Homo sapiens: one gene and its partner. The protein of the gene in region 1 interacts with the protein of each later gene in a pairwise test. Each region holds a gene or a part of one and is shown on either strand. Other genes may lie near its edges.

The links. Proteins that work in one complex are often made in the same cells at the same time.
Region 2: the proteins of NUDCD2 (region 1) and NEK8 interact in binary tests that used the Homo sapiens proteins (3 or more experiments, as listed by UniProt).

Annotation. Positions count from the first base shown.
Region 1 is NC_000005.10:163,445,979-163,450,112, reverse strand, and holds the end of NUDCD2 (nudC domain-containing protein 2), read left to right. Parts: 3' UTR 1-3,587; downstream 3,588-4,134. UniProt on the Homo sapiens protein: May regulate the LIS1/dynein pathway by stabilizing LIS1 with Hsp90 chaperone.
Region 2 is NC_000017.11:28,738,731-28,743,955, forward strand, and holds the end of NEK8 (serine/threonine-protein kinase Nek8), read left to right. Parts: coding exon 1-17; intron 18-353; coding exon 354-471; intron 472-1,732; coding exon 1,733-1,883; intron 1,884-2,091; coding exon 2,092-2,255; intron 2,256-2,347; coding exon 2,348-2,506; intron 2,507-2,682; coding exon 2,683-2,841; intron 2,842-3,228; coding exon 3,229-3,257; 3' UTR 3,258-4,725; downstream 4,726-5,225. UniProt on the Homo sapiens protein: Required for renal tubular integrity. May regulate local cytoskeletal structure in kidney tubule epithelial cells. May regulate ciliary biogenesis through targeting of proteins to the cilia.

The DNA of each region.
Region 1 (4,134 bases):
ATTTTTTTTTTATTTTTTATTTTTAGTAGAGTTGGGATTTCACCATATAGGCTAGGCTGGTCTTGAACTGACCTCAACGGATCTGCCCGCCTCAGCCTCTGAAGTGCTGGGATTACAGGCATGAGCCACCGTGCCCGGCCTATGGATTTTTTTCTTCTAAAAATTTTATAAATTTAGTTCTACATTTAGATCCGTGATCCATTTTAGGTTAATTTTTGTATAAGCTGTGAAATTTAGGTAGGTTTATTTTTTTGCATATGGATGTTCAGTTGTTTTAAAATCGTCTGTTGAAAAACTCTCCATTCCCCATTGAGTTGTCTTTTCACCTTTGTCAGAAATCAATTGCTATTTATGTGAGTCTGGTTTTGGACTTTATTCCATCGATCTATGTGTTTATCCTTTCATAAATACCAGATTGCCTTGATTATCACAGCTTTATAGTAAGTCTTAAAACTGGGCAGCATGATTCCTTCAAAATTTTTTTGAAATCTTTTTCAAAATTGTTTTGGCTAATTTAGTTTCTTTGCCTTCCATATGAATTTTAGAATTAGCTACTCTGTATCTACAAAAAATCCTACTGGGGTTTTGAATGCAATTTTGTGTCTTCCAATCCATGAACATGAGGTATCTATTTAGGACCTCTTTCATTTCAGTTATCAGCATTTTATGTCATTTTTCAGCATATATTCCACAGTGTTCATTTTGGAGGAACTATTGTTAAGTTGTATTATTTTTGAAACATGGGTTTCCAATTGCACATCGCTAGTATGTACAAATGTGTTTGATTTTTGTTTGTTGACCTTGTATCCTGTGACCTTGCTAAACTTCATTAGTTTTGGGAGTTATTTTGTTGTTAACTCATTAAGTTTTCTACATAAACTACGAATAGAAACAGTTTTATTTTATTCTTTTTAGTCTATGATTTTTCTTGCCTGATTTTGTTGTTAACTCATTAAGTTTTCTACATAAACTACGAATAGGAACAGTTTTATTTTATTCTTTTTAGTCTATGATTTTTCTTGCCTGATTGCAGTGGCCAGAACAATAACATGGAGAAAGTGGCCATCTCAGTCTTGTTCTGGATCTTAGGATTTTGAAAGCATTGTTTTTGACCATTATGTATGCAAGCTGTAGGCTTTTCTTAAATTCCCTTTGTCATGTTGAGCAAGTTCCCATCTATTAATTTGTTGTTAGCAGAGTTTCATGAGTGGATGCTGAATTTTCTATGCTCTTTCTGTATCAGTTTGGTCATTCTTTTTGTTTAGACTGTTAAAATCATGGATTTTACTGATTCCAGAATTTTGAAACAGCTTATATTTCCTCCCAACCCCAAACTTGGTCATGGTACATTATTCAGCTTATGTATCTAGATTTTTATTTTTTGAGGATTTTTATGTCTGTGTTCATTTTGGATATTGTGCAATTGTTTTTGTTTGTTTTTTCCTTGTGTTATCTTTATCTTGGTATGGTATCATGTTAATTCTGGTCTTGTAAAATGAATTGCAAAGTGATTATTCTTTCTGGAAGAGATTTGTAGAATTTGTTATATCTTTAAATGTTTTATGAATTTGCTAGTAAGGTTTTAAACAATGGTTCAATTTTTAAAAATAGAGAATTTATTGAGGTTTATTTAAGTTTGGGTACTGTATGCCTTTCAAGGAATTGGTTCATCTAATCCTATGTGCATAGAGTTGTTCATGGTATTTTCTTTGTGTCGTTCTAATGAGGATCTATACTGTTATCTTTTCTTTGATTCCTAAGATTGGAATCAAAGATTGGAATTCCTTCTCTTTTTTTGTCAATTTTGCCAGAGGTTTATCAATTTTACTGCTCTTTTCAAAAATTAGTTTTTTGATTGTTTTCTATTAATTTGTTTACAATTGCATTTATTTTCTGCCTCTTTTTTTTTTTTCTTCTTTCTGCTTGCTTTAGGTTTAGTTTGGGCTTCTTTTTTTTGTAGACAGGTCTCACTTCATCACCCAGACTGGAGTAGTGTTATGATCATAGCTCACTGCAGCCTCAAACTCGTGGGGTCATGATCCTCCTACCTCAGCCTTCTGAGTGGCTGGGACTATAGTGGTGTGCCACCACACCCAGTTAGATTTTCCTACTTTCTTAAAGTGGGAGCTTAGAGTGTTAATTTGAGAACTTTTTCTTGTTTAGTAAAAAGCAGTCGATTGTTATAAATTGCAGCACCAGCATGGCTGCATTCCAAGCACGGTGATATTTTCATTTATTTTAAAATATTTTTTAAGACTTCCCTGTAGTATCATGAGTTATTTAGAAATGTGTTGTTTAATTTCCAAGTGTTTGGAGATTTTCTTGCTGTTACTGATTTCTAGATTATGGTCAAAAAACATATTTTATATGATTTCATCTCTTTTAAATTTGTTAAGGTTTAAGACCCATGATGTGGTTTATCTTGGTGAGTGTTCCATGTGTACTTGAAAAGAATGCTTATTCTGCTGTTTTAGGTAGAAGGGTTTTATGTCAATTAAATCTAGCTGGTTATTAGTATTATTCCATTTTCCTACATCTTTGCTAATTTTCTATTAATTCTATGGACTACTGAGAGAGGAATGTTTAAGTTTCCAACTGTAAATGAAGATTTGTCCAGTCCTCCTTTTAATGCTACCACTTTTTGCTTCATGTTTTTTTTTTTTTTTTTGAGTCTTACCCTGTCACTCAGGCTGGAGCATAGCAACTCTGTCATGCTTCACTGCAGCCTCAAACTCCTGGGCTCAGACAGTCTTCCCACCTCAGGCTCCTCAGTACCTAGGACTACAGATGTATATCACTATGCCTAGCTAATTTTTGATTTTTTGTAGAGATAGGGTCTCCCTATGTTGAGTAGGCTGGTCTTGAACTCTTGGCCTCAAGCAATCCTCCCACCTTGGCTTCCCAAAGCATTGGAATTACAGGAATGAATGAGTCTCTGTACCTGGTCTCTTCATGTATTTTTAAGATCTGATAATAAGTGCTTACACTTTTAGCACTGTCTTGGTGAATTTTATCATTATATAATGTCCCTAATTATCCTTGGCAATTTTGGTTGTTCCTAACTCTACTTTGATGAATATAAAAATGGCTTTTTAATTTATTTTTTGAGACAAGAGCCTCACTCTGTTGCCCAGGTTGGAGAGCAGTGGTGTGATCTTGTCTCACTGCCTCACAGGTTCAAGCAATTCTCCTGCCTCAGTCTCTGGAGTAACTGGTACTACAGGCATGCGCCACCACACCCAGCTGATTTTTGTATTTTTAGTAGAGATGGGGTTTCACCATGTTGGCCATGCTGGTCTCGAACTCCTGGCCTCAAGTGATCCGTCCACCTTGGCCTCCCAAAGTGCTGGGATTACAGGTGTGAGCCACTGCGCTCGGCCTTAAAAATTGGCTTATCTTTTAATTCATCTTGACTCATGTTTACTGTTTTTTGGTTTCTGAAAAATAGATTTAATAAATAATAACATTTTATCAAAGTTATTAGTATAGAGAAATAAATTGAGTGTTGTTATTATTCTATGATCATGATGACAGCACAGAAGTTAATGTGGCCAGCATATAGTTTTGATTAAAAATTATACAAGCAATTTCACTTGAGTCCAATTAATCTTTTATTTTGAGAGGTAATGTATAGAGTGGTTAAGAGCACAGCCTCTGGAGTCAGAACTGCCTGGCTTTGAATCCTACCTCCAAGTACCAGGTATAGACCAGGGGCAAATCATTAGGTTCTCTGTCTCTCTTTCATTTGCAAATTGGGATAATGTCATTCAGTTGAGAGGATTTTAATGAGATGATTCATAGTACCAGAGAGTAAAAATTATCACTGCCAGCCACAAATGTTAAATCGAAAATATAAATTTTTAGATAGGATGTCTCATAATTGTAAATATGTACAAGGTTCAGATACTTTTTAAAAAATACTATGAAACATTATTAAATAAGTCTAAGGCAAGTCAATTATAAAAGGAGGCTTCTTTTATGAACAACTTTTCTTTCATCAGTAACTCCTTGCAGTGTCTACTTTACAGGATGTTAGTTTGAACATGAACTGTTCAAAATCATATTAATTAATTCAATTCCAGTAATAATTACAATTGATCCAAGCAGGCTAACATAACACATGGTGGTTACCTG
Region 2 (5,225 bases), on another chromosome or scaffold:
TCACTGACATCAGCCAGGTGGGTGTCACATATACCTTGGGAAGGGGAAGTCGGGGGATGGCGGGGAGCCCACATCTGTGAGTTGACACCAGATTGGGGGCAGGGGAGTTCCCAGCAACCACAGGTTCCTCTAGCTTCCCAGCTGCACCTGCTCTGGGCCACCTACATCGGGGAAAGTACAGAAAAACCAGGCTTCCCCAATGGTTGCCCACCTGGCAGTGTGTATGGCTGGATTTAAAGACACAGCCACCTCCTGAGAATGTGTAGCCTCCAGCTTTGTCCCTACAGGGGGTGTTGAAGCCAGATGGCTCCAGACCCTTTGCCCAGTTTCTCCTTGCTTCCTCTCCTCTCTAGCCCACCATTGTGGAGGCTTTGCTGGGCTATGAAATGGTGCAGGTGGCCTGTGGGGCCTCTCACGTGCTGGCCCTGTCCACTGAGCGAGAACTATTTGCCTGGGGCCGTGGAGACAGCGGTAAGCTCCAGCCTTTAGGCCCCATCTCACAGCATCCTCAGCCATGACTTGCTCCCCTTCATACCCACCTTCCACCTCACAGCACATTCTCTCTTCCCTCTTTTCTCTCAAATTCTCTTCATTCATTCAACAAACCTTTATTTTACACCGACTATGTGCACACCCTGTGCTGGGTGCTGAGATGAGATGGAGATGTGGCTTCCTTCAGGTGTTTATGAGGTAATGAAGGAAATTTCATTCATCCACCTAGTTTTTTATTTTATTTTGAGATGGAGTCTCGCTCTGTTACCCAGGCTAGAGTGCAGTGGCGTGATCTCAGCTCACTGCAACCTCCACCACCGGGTTCAAGCGAATCTCCTGCCTCAGCCTCCCAAGTAGCTGGCATTACAGGCACCCGCCACCGCGCCCAGCAAATTTTTGTATTTTTAGTAGAGACAGGGTTTCACCATCTTGGCCAGGCTGGTCTCGAACTCCTGACCTCGTGATCCACATGCCTCAGCCTCCCAAAGTGCTGGGATTACAGGCGTGAGCCACCACGCCTGGCCCATCCACTAATTTTTTTTATTGAGGTCCTCTTTGGGTCAGGCATCAGGCTGGCCACTGAAACTAGAGATGACACTGATGGGTTCTTGTCTTCCTGGAGGACTCAGTCTAGTGGGAGAAAGATGACATTGCCAGCATGCCAGAGAACAGATAGCATCAGGGCTACACCCCAGTGCAGAGGCGTGGAATTCAGTGAACAGTAATGTCAACTGGAGGAGAGAGATGTCATTTGAACAGGGCTTTAAAGGAGGAGGATTTTGAGCCGGCGTGGTGGCTCACGCCTGTAATCCCAGCACTTTGGGAGGCCGAGGCAGGTGGATCACAAGGTCAGGAGTTCAAGACCAGCCTGGCCAACATGGTAAAACCCCGTCTCTACTAAAAATAAAAAAATTAGCTGGGCATGGTGGTGCATGCCTGTAATCCCGGCTACTCAGGAGGCTGAGGCAGGAGAATCGCTTGAACCCAGGAGGCAGAGGTTGCAGTGAGTGAAGATCATACCCTTGTACTCCAGCCTTGGCGACAGAGTGAGACTCAGTCTCGAAAAATAAAAATAAAAAATAAAGAAGGAGGATTTTAACCAGCAGAGGGGCCTAGGAAAGGCATTTGGGACTGAGAGAACAGAGAACTCATGCTGTTCCCTCCCCTCAGTGGGCCCTCCTCATTCGGGCATCACCCCCACTAAAGCTCAAATTAACTCCTTCTGGGTTTCTTCTTGTAGGCAGACTGGGGCTAGGCACCAGGGAGTCCCACAGCTGCCCCCAGCAGGTGCCCATGCCCCCAGGACAGGAAGCTCAGCGAGTTGTATGTGGTATCGATTCCTCCATGATCCTCACTGTGCCTGGCCAAGCCCTAGCCTGTGGGAGCAACAGGTGAATAGATCATCAGGATGACTAACCTGCCCCTGGCTCTCCTTGGCTGCAAGTGCTCCGTCCATCATTGCCTACCTTTCACCAAAGACCAGAATTGAGGGGGTTGAGGGTGCTATTGGTTCAACCCAGGGTGGGATCTGTCTCCTGGTGCACCAGCTCCTGCCCAAACTGTCTGTCAGTTGGATTTGGCTTCTGGCTCTGCCCTCAGGTTCAACAAGCTGGGCCTGGACCACCTCTCCCTGGGGGAGGAGCCTGTCCCCCACCAGCAAGTGGAGGAGGCCCTGAGCTTCACACTACTAGGCTCTGCACCCCTGGACCAGGAGCCTCTGCTGAGTATAGACCTGGGCACTGCTCACTCAGCTGCTGTGACTGGTGAGGAGGACTTGGGCTCTGGAGGTCAGAGGGGGACTCACGGTCTCCTTGGTACCCTGTTGAAGCACCCCTTTCCTTCCTCTCCCCCATAGCCTCGGGTGATTGCTACACTTTTGGCAGCAATCAGCACGGACAGTTGGGCACCAATACTCGCCGAGGCAGTCGGGCACCCTGTAAGGTCCAAGGCCTTGAGGGCATCAAGATGGCAATGGTAGCCTGTGGGGATGCCTTCACTGTAGCTATTGGGGCAGGTGAGGACTGAGCATGGTGGGGGCAGACAGTGCCATGAGCAGTGGGGGGTGGGGGTTGCTATTCAGGGCCACTGGACTCTGGAGCCTCCCAGGGGCCATCCTGGCAATGTGGGAGGGGAGATCCTGCTCGGGCTGTGCCCACTTCCCACTTCCCTCCTGGGGATTCTTCCTGGCAGAGAGCGAAGTGTACTCTTGGGGCAAAGGGGCGCGAGGTCGATTGGGAAGGAGGGATGAGGATGCCGGACTCCCTCGGCCAGTGCAGTTGGATGAGACACACCCTTACACGGTGACTTCCGTGTCCTGTTGCCATGGAAACACCCTCCTGGCTGTTCGATGTGAGTTGTAACTTTTCCCACTTCACCACACAGCCCAGCTGGCCCCTGTCCACACTCCCATCCCCAGTGTTCACAGATGGCCACATCACCAAAAGCATCTTTAGCCCCCAGATAAAAAAAGCAGAAGCTGCGGTTGAAAAGCTTCAAGCTTCCTGCCTGGGGTGGCCAAGGCTGGTGCTTCTTGGGCCTCATGGAAGGGCTGCCTCCACTGCTCCCCAGGGCTCACATGCATTCTTTCTCCTACTGCTGAGTCCCGTTGATGCTGAAACTCTCTTTCTGGCCTAACAGGGTCCAGAATCCAGGGCCCAGTGGGAGTGGGAGGTGGGTGATGATTTCTGGAGGCACTGCCCTCAGAAGCTGCAAGGGTTTCTCTTCGGTACCCTCCAGCGGTCACAGATGAGCCGGTCCCCCCCTGAGGCACCCGGATTCACCTCTGGACCACCCTGATATTGCTTCTCCTCTGAATGCTCTGAAAAGTGCAGGTGCCCAAGGCATGACTTGCAGCTGTCTCCTGGATTGTGTCATCATGGGGTATCAGGGCTGGCAAAACCCCTGCTCTGCTTTTGGCCTTGGATATGGAAACCTCAACCACTTTGTTCTCCTACCACCTCTTTGCCCTTCCTACCCCTTCCTCCCTTCAGTCAGTGTCCCCAGGGTCCAGCCTGGCTAGAGTTAGAAGGCAGACCTAGCCTTTGGAAGCAGGGTGGCCTCCAGAGCCTTGCCATAAAAAGGCTGAAGGCAGCCGGGCGCAGTGGCTCACGCCTGTAATCCCAGCACTTTGGGAGGCTGAGGCGGGCGGATCACGAGGTCAGGAGATCGAGACCATCCTGGCTAACGTGGTGAAACCCCATCTCTACTAAAAATACAAAAAAATTAGCTGGGCGTGGTGGCACGCGCCTGTAGTCCCAGCTGCTCAGGAGGCTGAGGCAGGAGAATGGCGTAAACCCCTCCAGCCTGGGCGACAGAACCAGACTCCGTCTCAAAAAAAAAAAAAAAACAAAAAAGGCTGAAGGCAGCTGTAGCTCCACACAGACCCTACCCTTTCCCCTAGCCCAGTTAGAAAATAAGTCTGGGCCGGCGGCGGTGGCTCACACCTGCATAGGCAGTGCTTTGGCCAGGAGGATCCCTTGATCCCTTGTGGCCAGGAGTTGGGAGACCAGCCTGGGGACCATAGCGAGACCGCTGTCTCCACCAAAAAAAAAAAAAAAGAAGAAAATAAGGCTGGGTGCGGTGGCTCACGCCTGTAATTCCAGCACTTTGGGAGGCCAAGGCGGGCGGATCACTTGAGGTCAGTAGACTGAGGCCAGCCTGGCCAACATGGTGAAACCCCGTCTCTACTAAAAATACAAAAATTAACCAGGCATGGTGACGGGCGCCTGTAATCCCAGCTACTCTGGAGGCTAAGGCAAGAGAATCCCTTGAACCCGGGAGGTGAAGTTTGCAGTGAGCCGAGATCGCACCACTGCACTCCAGCCTGGATGACAGAGCAAGTCTCCCTCTCAAAAAAAAAAAAAAAAAAAAAAAAAAAAAAGTATTTGGTGCTTACCGGGACTCTATCTCCATACTTTGGAGCAGGGCAAGCCAGGGCCTGCCTGGACTGGCCATTAGGCCTGCCTAGCTTCTGCATAGCCCGGGGCTGGGCGGTCCCCGGGAGTGCTGCCACCTCCCCTACACTTTCATCCTGAGGCAGGATTTGCTAGACGTCGGCTTGCCTCTCTTCCCCAGCAGGAGGGCAGGAGTCACTAAGTGCTGCAGAAAAGATCCGCGCTGGAGATTGCCCGTCCCCCCCATGCCTTTCCCCAGAAACAGTTGAGAGAATGGGTAGCTGGTGGGACCAGACCGGTTTCCCAGAGGACAGGAAGGCCAATAAAAATATCAGCTGCCTGCCTGGAGTGTGGTGTCTTCAAGGGTGGGGGTGGCGACCAGGCACCCCAGGACTGGGCTGGGCCCGACCTCGGTGGCAGGGCTGCGGCCAAGGGAGGAATGTGGGCGCAGCCGGAGGCTGGGGCCGAGGTTCCTCTGGCCCAGCGCCCAGTCCAGCCTCCCCGCCCCAGCTGGGCTCCCCGGAGCTGGTTGCCAGGCTTCGGCTGCCTAGCACCTGGAAGCTGGGGCCACGGTTCCTGGGCTGCTCACGGCCCCGGAGGCCGAGCTGTTGCCTCTGGAGAAGAAAACCTTTGTGGCGCGGCCCGTCCCCTTTTCCGACCCGCACTTCCCCGGGGCCCGCGGGCTCTGGGGAGAAGCGGAGCCACGATCTCTGTCCCCCAGGGGAAAGAAAAGCCCATGATCCCGTGGGTGGGCGAGACTGGCGGTCACCAGACCCAAAAACCATGCACTCGGGGGTGGGCGGGGCCGCGAGGGCGCGCATTAGGACCGCGCGGCCGCGG